2 separate regions of the Homo sapiens genome follow, and region 1 is linked to region 2. Evidence: fine-mapped expression QTL. A gene starts in region 2. The other region holds a variant in brackets. All regions are shown on one strand. Distances are between the middles of the regions. Region 1 overlaps CD247 (CD247 molecule). Region 2 holds the start of CD247 (CD247 molecule).

Region 1 (5,000 bases), 30 kb after region 2:
AACAGTGCTGCTATAAACATGGGTGCACAAATATCTCTTAAAGACCCTGCTTTCAATTCTTTTGGGTATAGAACCAGAAGTAGAATTGCTAGACCATATGATAGTTCTATTTTTTTTTTTTTTGAGATGGAGTTTCGCTCTTGTTGCCCAGGCTGGAGTGCAATGGCATGATCTTGGCTCACTGCAACCTCCCTTCCTGGCTTCAAGCAATTCTCTTGCCTCAGCCTCCCGAGTAGCTGGGATTACAGGCATGGGCCACCATGTCCGGCTAATTTTGTATTTTTAGTAGAGACAGGGTTTCTCCATGTTGGTCAGGCTGGTCTCGAACTCCCGACCTCAGGTGATCCACTCGCCTTGGCCTCCCAAAGTGCTGGGATTACAGGCATGAGCCACTGCGCCCGGCCAGTAGTTCTATTTTTAACTTTCTGAGGAACCACCAAACCGTTTTCCACAACAGCTGTACCATTTTACCTTTCCGCCCACAGTGCACGGCATTCCTTCTCCACATCCTCACCAACACTTGTGATTTTCTGTTTTTTAAACAAGTAGCCATTCCAACGAGTAAAGGGTGATATAAATTTTTTAAGAGGCAAGACGTGCCAAAACTAGGATTTCAAAAATTGTAAATATAGAATAAAATAGACTATTTTAAATGTGACAAATTAACAAATTAATTTTAGCCTGCTTATATGAGTTCTTTCAAAGATAATTTCTTTTTATTTATTATTATTATTATTATTTATTATTATTTTGAGACAGAGTCTTGCTCTGTCAACCCAGACTGGAATGTAGTGGTGTGATCTCAGCTCACTGCAATCTCGGCCTCCCATGTTCAAACAGTTCTCCTGCCCATGTTCAAACGATTCTCCTGCTTCAGCGTCCTGAGTAGCTGGAATTATAGGCACCCACCACCCCACCAGGCTAATTTTTGTATTTTTAGTAGAGACGAAGGCTGGTCTCGAATTCCTGACCTCAAGTGATCTGCCCGTCTCAGCCTCCCAAAGGGCTGGGATTACAGGCGTGAGTCACTGTACCCGACCTTCAAAAATAATTTTTTTTTCTTTTTTGAGACGGAGACTCGCTCTTGTTGCCCAGGCTGGAGTGCAGTGGCGCGATCTCGGCTCGCTGCAACCTCCGCCTCGCAGGTTCAAGGGATTCTCCTGCCTCAGCCTCCGGAGTAGCTGGGACTACAGGCGTGCGCCACCAAGCCCAGCTAATTTTTGTATTTTTAGTAGAGATGGGGTTTCACCATGTTGGCCAGGATGGTCTCAAACTCCTGACCTCGTGATCCACCCAACTCGGCCTCCCAAAGTGCTGGGCTTACAGGCGTGAGCCACCGCGCCCGGCCTCAAATATAATTTCTAAAGGAAGAAAGAGATAGAGAGGGGAAGATAGAAAGAATGAGAGAAGAAAAATTAAGAAAGATGAGGTCAGATGACGGGGAAGGTGGAGAAGCTTTGCAGGCAGAGTCTGGAATACTGCTTTTGGAAATGTGAGGCCAGGCCCCGTGCCTTCCAAATGCACCCGATCTTTCCGCCGCCGTAGGTCCCGGATATATGGATTTGCTTGGGGACATTGCTTGCTTTCACAGGGAGGCTGTGTACTAGCAAGGACACAAAGATGAGCGCTCCACAGTTCCCTATTTGGGCCAGAAGGTCAAAAAAAGGGGTGGGGTGGTGGGGGGGCACAGGCAGCTAAACTGGCTCTGCCTCCTGGGGCCAAAAGGCCAGCTTCCTCCCTGGGCCTGGCTGCCCAGAAACCTCGGCGCGGGCACAGGTCAGAGGCCGAACTGGGTGGTATTCAATCTTGGGTTTAATGCATTTTAAAAACTGCTTTTGAAGGCGCAAATGCATCACAGTTCTTTCATTTCAGGGAAACCGCCTGTGAGAAAGGGGGAGGTGGGGAAAACGCTGAGCCCAGGAGGGGGCTGCCCTGGGCTTTTGTCTAACAAAGCCGCAGCTCCTCAGCAGCGGGGCTCTTGCCCTTTGAAAACCAATCGGGCAGGAACCCTTCAGCCTCCTTTCTGAGAGCCAGTCACATCACATTTTACAGATCTCAGAAAAGTGAGCCAAGTCCCTGCGCTATGTCACTCTGGGTTTGCGTCCCATGTCTCTGACACCCTGTTTTTCTGAGCAAACAGCCTCTAGGTGAACAACAGTATTTTGCTTCTCTCATCACTGAATAGGGTCAAACTTCCCATGGAATTCCACTACCAAACCAGATGAATAGAAAGAAAGCTGAGAGACCACTAAATAGGGCATTGCTGCTATCTCAATGAGAGTGTCACCTACCCACAAAGCAGGCAGGAAATCTTTAATTAACCCTGTTTCTAGACACAAAAGCCCTCAATAACATTTCATCCTATTTAAATAAATATTTTCAAAGAAGGTGATGTGGGAACACTTTTATTTTTGCTATTGGAGTGCTAATTTAATATCATATATAGTTTAAATTATCATATAAGAACCTATAAGCAGAGTTTGGGGTGGGGAAGGGGGGTTGGATCCTTCTAGGAACTCTCCTTTATCTCTTTCATTTTTATTCCACTGTGACACTTCCCTCTTGGGAAATTCCTGCCCCGGATTTTTATTAGTCTTTTGTCTGCTGTCCGGTGTTAAAACCTCACAAATCCATTACGTGCTTCTCGGCGCTGCCTTTCAAGTTACCTCTCCACGAGGTGTGGACTAATGAATCAAACGGCAAGGGAAGCAGCTGCCCTCAGCCCTCTCAGAAGAGGCCCGGCCCACAGCCATCCTTCAGAAAACCCTCCTGGCAGGCCCTCCCTGGGCTCAGCACACCCTCGCTTCCCTGGGTTTTTATTCGGAGCTGTCTGAG[C/T]TACAAGAACATACTCACGTACGTGACATAAAAACACGCACGCACATGCAGAAAGGGAAATACTTGTTGGGCTCCATCAGAGAGAATATTTTTCAAAAATCTCTCAATATTGTCATTATGTCAACTGCTAAAGATTCCCTGCTTGACAAAAACTTAATCAGGCTTCCAAACTTTCTCCTAGGCCCATCTGTGTACTTTCTTGCAAAATCCAGGTTTAGCAAAGAACTCTGCCCAGTTAGTTGAGCACAACCATCAACCTTCAATATCCGGTTCCCCTCAGTGTCTGATCAGGGTCCTCATCCCACTCCATCCCCCAGGTGAGGTCTGATCCCCCTGGCCTGTGTTCAGCTAGAGTCCTGTTAGGTTGGTTTAGCCAGAATCCCTCTCACTCTTTTTGGGAATTTTCTATCCATTGACCCCCTACTCTGCTCCTTGGCATAAATGCCCACTTGCTGTACTTGGAGTTGAGCCCAATCTTTCTGTCCCACTGCAAGACCCCATTGCAATCATCCTTCTACCTATCATGACAGTTTTGAATGAAGTCTGCCTTACTGTGCTTTAACAGGTATCATTGAATTATTTTTCTTTAACACATCTTAGCAGTAAAATTATCTTCAAAATTTTCTTAGAATGTATGATCATCATCTCTTATAGCTGTATCCTGATTTCCACTTTACAATAGAGTGCTCATATTATCATCTCATTTGTGCCTTTAACAAACCTTTTGGGGTAACAATTGTTATTTCCATGTGATAGCTGGAGAAACTGAGTTTGAATGAGTTCCTCAGGGGAACACAGCTAGAAAGTAGTATTGTGGGGCTGGCACACAGTGGCTCATGCTTGCAATCCCAGCCCTTTGGGGGCCGAGTGGGGAAGACTGCTTGAGGCCATGAGTTCAATACTGACCTGGGCAACATAGTGAGACCCCCATCTCTACAAAAAAAATTCTAAAAATAAATTAGTCAGATGTGGTGGTAGATACTTGTAATCCCAGCTACTCAGGAGGCTGAGGCAGAAGGATTGATTGAGCCCAGGAATTTGAGGCCACAGTGCACAGTGATCGTGTGCCACTGCACTCCAGCCTGGACAACACAGTGAGACCCTGTCTCGAAAAAAACAAGGTAGTGTGGTGGGAGTAGGACCCACACTTCTCACTGCTAGCCTGGTACTCATTCTTTTTGATAATGCTGTTGTGTCATGAAATGGCACTCAATTAGTGTTGTTGGAATGGTGGGTTGTGCCTGCCTCATAGACTGAGATCGGAGCCTACTTTGGTCAGTGCCTCCAGTAAGGTTATGCGGTTTAAGCATTGGATGGAGGTGCCAGGCTGAGGCTGCCAGTGGGTCCTGGGACTTGCCTGTACCTGCTCCCTGGCAGTGTGGGTCCAGGGATGCCCACCTGGAGGAAGGGGCATCAGCTGGCCTGAACCTGCCTGCCATGGAGCTGCCTTTTCTTTCTTCGTTTTTTCTTTTGTTTGTTTTAGATGGAATCTCACTCTATCTCTCAGGCTGGAGTGCAGTGGCACGATCTCGGCTCACTGCAACCTCCACCTCCCGAATTCAAGCGATTCTCTGCCTGAACCTCCCAAGTAGCTGGGATTACAGGCGCCCACCACCATGCCTGGCTAATTTTTGTATTTTTAGTAGAGATGGGGTTGCACCATCTTGGCCAGGCTGGTCTTGAACTCCTGACCCCGTGATCCACACACCTCGGCCTCCCAAAGTGCTGGAATTATAGATGTGAACCATCACACCCGGCCGTTTTCTTCCTTTTTTTTTTTTTGAAATGGAGTCTTGCTCTGTCACCCAGGCTGGAGTGCAGTGGCATGATCTCGACTCACTGCAACCTCCATCTCTGGGGTTCAAGTGATTCTCCTGCCTCAGCCTCCCAAGTAGCTGGGATTACAGGCACCCTCCACCACGCCTGGCTAATTTTTGTGTTTTTAGTAGAGACGGGGTTGCACCATCTTGGCCAGACTGGTCTTGAACTCCTGACCTCAGGTGATCCACCCACCTCGGTCTTCCAAAGTGCTGGGATTACATAGGCACGAGCCACCATGCCCACCCAGAGCTGCCATTTCTAACTCACACAGAGGTATCAGAGCAGCTTGCAGTGGCCCGCATAAGTGGCCAGAGCTCTTTCCTGGGGGTTGCAGGGGGTTTCTC
Region 2 (5,474 bases):
AAAGTATTGTCTAGAGGACAAGCATTGTAAGTATTAACATCGGAATCAGTGAAAACAATCAGTATAGATCAAGTTTTTAAGTGATACTTTCTCAGAAATGTATGTGTACAGGTCATTGAAGATTATCTATAAGCAATTGGTCTTGGAAAAGCATAATTTTTGAAGAACTCTCTTGCCCTGTGAGAGTGATCTAATATGAATGAATAAAATATATTTCTGTAGTTGAACTGAAAATAGGTACATCTCTGTTGTTGAATTCTAATAATTTTATTCTCTTTAAAAATTTACATAGAGTACAATTACCAGTGTTCTTTTGAACGTGCTATTTTCTCAAAATTCACATAGCTATCCCAATAACACTCTTAAAGACTTAAGCATAGTACTTTTATAAAGCCTCTTCTTTCAATATGTCTCCTAAAGTCCCCTTATAAAATGTCTTGTTTTAAAATAGCCGTCTTTGGAATACTTTATGATGCAGAGTTTTATTTATGTATGTTGGTTGTTTCAAGCCACTTCACGTAATGGTGATTCGATGATCAATGTGGCAAGAGTGAATATAAGACAATGTAAGTATGGACCACTAGTTATGTTGAAACTCAGACCCTCTGAGGATGCAAAAGAGAACCAGCAAGTATGCATCCTTCAAGCTGAGTAAAAGCTAAACAAACATACATCGGATAGAAACAAACAACAATAAAATCCTTATGGCTTTGTTGATCACTGTGGTGTTTAATTGACTCTATTTTAAGACTTTTCTACACTTAGCCCTCTCTCCCTACTCAAGGTGCAGCAAATCACTTTTTTGTTAATAATGCATGTCTGGATCTTATCTTGGCTGTGTCTGTATTGCAGTCAATGGTTCAAGTCCTCAAGGCCACTGCCAGCACCCTGGCACATGGGGGCCCTCTGCTGTCTTTGTTGTCCTGTTGACTGCTAAAGAACTCAGGCTAACAATGTTACTACCCACATTCATGAGTTACTTGTTGCTGGTTGTCATCTGTTGCCTTTCAAGTCTTTTCTGGAATCTAATTGTTTTTTGTTTGTTTGTTTGTTTTGTTTTGTTTTTGGTCTGGAACCCAGAAGACATTTATCTAATAAAATATTAGGTGATAATTTCCTAAGAATTTCAACAGATTTAAACATTTTGTCTTTAACATGGGTGAGTTAAAATCACTTACACTATACAAAAGTTAAGCATGTTTCCATCACCACTTTTCAGATAATAAAACCTCTTTCATTTCCGTGTCCATGGGGAACTATGCACCCTAAGGTCCTCCACACGTGGGAGGGGAGAATCTGTTCAGGAACTCTCTGAAGTCAGTATTCATCAAGAAATGGGTATTTGGGATGATCACACCACATGAGCATTTCTATGAAGCGGACATTTTCACTCCAGGCTTCAATGTCCTTGATTCAGTGAGAGAAAAGTCAAAGGCCTGAAGGTTTTCCTTGATCTTTTCAGGATTAAAGCTTTTAGGAATGACAACCACCCCTTGCTGGATGTTGAAACGCAAAATAACTTGAGCTGTGATCTTATTGCACCTTTTTAGAAGTGCATCCTTTAACGAAGGCAGAGAAGACATATTTGTCCAGGTTGGATTCCTAGTGGTCCCCAAAGGGCTATATGCAATCATGACAATGTCATGTTGTTGGCGAAATTTCAAAAGTTTTGGTTGGGTGTAATATGGGTGGCACTCAACCTCGTTGCTGACTGGCTTGGGTTTGAGTCCTGGGTTGTTCTGGATGAGCTCCAGCTGGCCTGCTGTTAAAACTGGATACTCCGAGGGATTTCACCAAGCCAGCATCTTTACAAGCTTCCGAAGTCTCCCAAGTGGCACACAGATTTGACTTGTGATATAACCATTTGCCATTCTCACCTATAGGGTAGATTTTGTCTTCTGGCTTAGCGGCCATGGGTATTTCAGTGATGTAAAGATCCACACAATCTAGCTGGAGGACCTTGAGCATCCTCTCTAGGCTCGGGCAGACCAGCTCTGGGTTGTGATTTGTAGCCCACAGTTTTCCACAGTAGAAGATATCCTTCCTCTGCACCTTTCCTTCTGCTATTTTCCCCCTGATGGCCTCCCCAGCTGTGTCTTCATTTTGGTATATGTAGGCTTCATCAGTGTGTCAGCACCCCAGACCAATGACAACCTTCACTGATGAAGACTCAGACTAAATGTAGAGACAGACTACTTGGGCTGTAGTGACATCTCTACCTACCACCTACTTGCTGTGTGGCCTTGAGTAAGTCATCGGCCCCCTTAGGGGTCAATTTAGGCTCTGAGTAGGTACCAAGTCTGATGATGGGAATGCTGTTTCCATCACTTAGAGGTATGCGGTGATTTGCAGGACTCACTTTCTTCATAGTGTCCTTTGATGCACAAAAACTTTTAATTGTGATGAAGTCCAATTTATCAATTTTATGTTGGATTGCTGTGACTTTGGATTATTGGCTATTCTTGTACATTAATTTTTTTCATATCAATTTTGGAATCAGCTTAACTTGTTCTAAAACTTTTTGTTGGTATTTTCAATGAAATAGATTGATTAATTAAGAGAGAATGGTGGTCTCCTTAAAAGAGAGCTTCCTATCAAAGAAGGGTATGCCTTTCCATTTACCCAAGTCCTTTCGGCGTTCTTCAGCAATGTTTTAAAGTTTGTTTCATATAGATATATTACAATTTTTAGACGAAGTTTATGTCTAGGTTTTAATGTTTTATTATTGTAAATTACTCTGGTGTTTAAATGTTGACAACTAACACAAGTGTTTAAAATACTATGTGAGCTACAGTATTTCACACAATGATCCAAATTCAGGCCAAGTTCAGATCTGCAACCTCAGATCTACTCCAGCTCTTTGCTTTATAGATAAGGAAGCTGAAGTCTAGAGATGTTGAGTGACTGACTCAACGCCACACAGCAAGTAGGTGGTAGGCAGAGATGTCACTAAAGCCCAAGGAATCTGTCTCTACATTTGTCCTGGACTCTAATCCAGGGTTCTGTCATTTTGCCAGCCACCATAAAATATTTGACAGTCTAGGAAAACAGCAAATGTTCTTACATCCATCGAGAACTTGTATTTGCCTAGAGATGGACTTTACCAATCAAGATAGGAATTAGATAAGAATTATTTTTTTTAAAAAAAGGAGCATTAAAACAATGGTCAAATGAGAGAAAAAGCAAAATTCAGACAGACAGATACATACACACACCCCAAACCCTCAAACCTCCAGGGCTTCCTGCCTGTGAACCGAAAGGGGGAGTGCGAATTTCTTGGCCCTGTCGGCAGGTGCTTTCTCAAAGGCCCCACAGTCCTCCACTTCCTGGGGAGGTAGCTGCAGAATAAAACCAGCAGAGACTCCTTTTCTCCTAACCGTCCCGGCCACCGCTGCCTCAGCCTCTGCCTCCCAGCCTCTTTCTGAGGGAAAGGACAAGATGAAGTGGAAGGCGCTTTTCACCGCGGCCATCCTGCAGGCACAGTTGCCGATTACAGGTAGGGCCGACGTGTCGACGGCAGGGAACTTCTAGAAACTCTTTGTGTATGTGTAGGGGAGTGGGTGTGGGTAGTGGAGGGTGGTGAGGGGCTGGGGTCTCCTTCAAATCCTGCCCTCCTCAAATCAATGGGCAAGTGAGCAGTGAGGGGTCCGGCCCGGTGCTGGCATCTGCTCCGTCACAGCCGAGTTGGGCATCAGTTCAGAGCCAGCTGCTAGAATACACAGCTCCTCCAGGTACAGATTTTTCGAGTGATAAGAGAGGAAGGAAGAAGGAAGCAAGAGAGCAACCGAGGCAGGCCCAGGGTAGAGAAACGGAGAGGGAGTGTTTCACAGAAGCTGGACAGGATCGGAAAATGTCAGCCAGGCCATGTTTCGTGCTGCGACGTTCTAGTCCCTTCAGCTTCTTTCACCCTCTGGCTGGCTCCGTCACTCAGCCCCTTTCTTTCTTCCTTTGCCAACAAAGAAGATTTTGTTGGTCAGTCAAGGTCATGGCCTGAAACACTCCAATGGGCCCGGGAGTAAGTGGGGTAACCAAGGAGGAGAGGGGCACAGGCAGGAAGCACCGGGTGGCAGCCTCCACAGCGCCTTCGCCACCTCATGGCCAAGCGTCCGTGTCTAGGCTCAGCCTTGTCATGGCTGTCCCCACACCCACGCCTGGGACTGCCGGGTGACGCACCATCCCAGGCTCCGTGACTCACCCCAGCCTGCCCCTTAGGCGGCCATCTAGCCCAGCCAGAGGGCCCGGCATTGACAGAACACGGGGCAGATGAGACGATGTGCCTGGTTAAGTCACCACCACGAGCAGCGCCCAGCCAACAAGAGTGCTTGCTCCTCACCTCATTCCCGATCGTGGGAGCCCAGCTTTGCTGCAAGCCTTTAGCTTCCACCATGTTTTCTAGCCCAGGTAATGAGGAAGAAAACCAGTGAAAAGAGGACAGGACAAACTGCTCAGGGGGATCAGCCTCGTGGCATCTTCCTGAGAAGTGGGGCAGGCTGAATTTCAATCTAAAGAAACAGGGAAGGTGAAGCAAGCAAATGTCCTCGGCCCACCTGATCGCTCCTGGTAACTCACCTGGGTGTGGGAATTTGTTTAGGGGCCCTGTTGGGAGGGCAGGAGAGGCCATGGGCACTTCTGCTCCCACCAGGGAGCCAGGCACAGCCCGGGCCAGCGCCTCGGGGGATTCTGAGGCCCGTGCAGCTGCAGGGGTTTCTGTCAGGTCACAGCTGTTTTCTCAGAAAAGCCTTGTGGGGTCTAAGTCACACACACAGTGTGGCAGAGTGAGGGTGCCTGAGCTTGCTCAGAGCAGCCCATCCTTGTGTGCTGGGGACAAGGGGACCCAGAACGCTGGAATTTAGTGACTTCAGGGGAGACAGCCAGGGGCAATAGCTCCAGCCTCTGAGCTTCAGGCTTGAGACACCACACCAGGGAGCTCATATAACCTTTCAGGGTCTTTACCTGCAGTTTCCTCACTGGTCCATTTGTGTTCGGCTTGGAGAGACCAAGGTAGGGGCAAAGTGAAGTTAGAAAGAAAAATGAAAGATTGTTGGGTGGCGGTGGCTGCCAAGCGTGGTAAACAGAACCCCACCCAGCAGACAAGATGGGGGCCGTGCCTCATTTCCACAAATAGGGGGCAGGAGGAGAAAACTGCACATTGGCTGGATTTTTTGCTTCTCAGTGCCACTTACTTTGCCTCTATGGAGACTGATATTTTAGCTATTTTAGATAAAGCTAATAGACAAAAGTGTTTCAAAATATCCTAGCCCAGAAACGAGGTACGGTAAGGCAAAGCGCGACTCAGAGAGGCCTTGACACCGAGGGCTGCGATGGTGCTTTTGCTGCCTGAGGGGACACCTCCACAGTCTCCCCGGAGGAAAGGCCGCACATAGAATTTCAGTCAGGTCTTCTCTCTTTTCTTGCTCAGTTAAGTGACCCATTGCATACATCCCTTTTAAAATGTCTACTTTTTACTAAGCTGT

Evidence for each region. PIP is the estimated chance that this variant, and not a neighbour inherited with it, causes the effect. A credible set is the group of variants that fine-mapping cannot tell apart.
Region 1: its variant is the best candidate, but not a certain one, in a credible set for the expression of CD247 in whole blood (INTERVAL, PIP 0.78).

The regions. Positions count from the first base shown.
Region 1 is chr1:167,486,691-167,491,690 of GRCh38, reverse strand. The region is part of intron 1 of CD247 (CD247 molecule); the gene reads left to right. Among named protein-coding and RNA genes, the nearest start is that of CD247, 29 kb to the left of the region's middle. The variant C/T (reference allele first, on the strand shown) is at 2,836.
Region 2 is chr1:167,516,430-167,521,903 of GRCh38, reverse strand. It overlaps CD247 (CD247 molecule), which reads left to right and starts at 3,375. Exons shown (of 8, transcript NM_198053.3): 1 at 3,375-3,496. The coding sequence starts at 3,439. It also overlaps the pseudogene AKR1D1P1. RefSeq lists enhancers at 3,544-4,743, 4,015-4,978.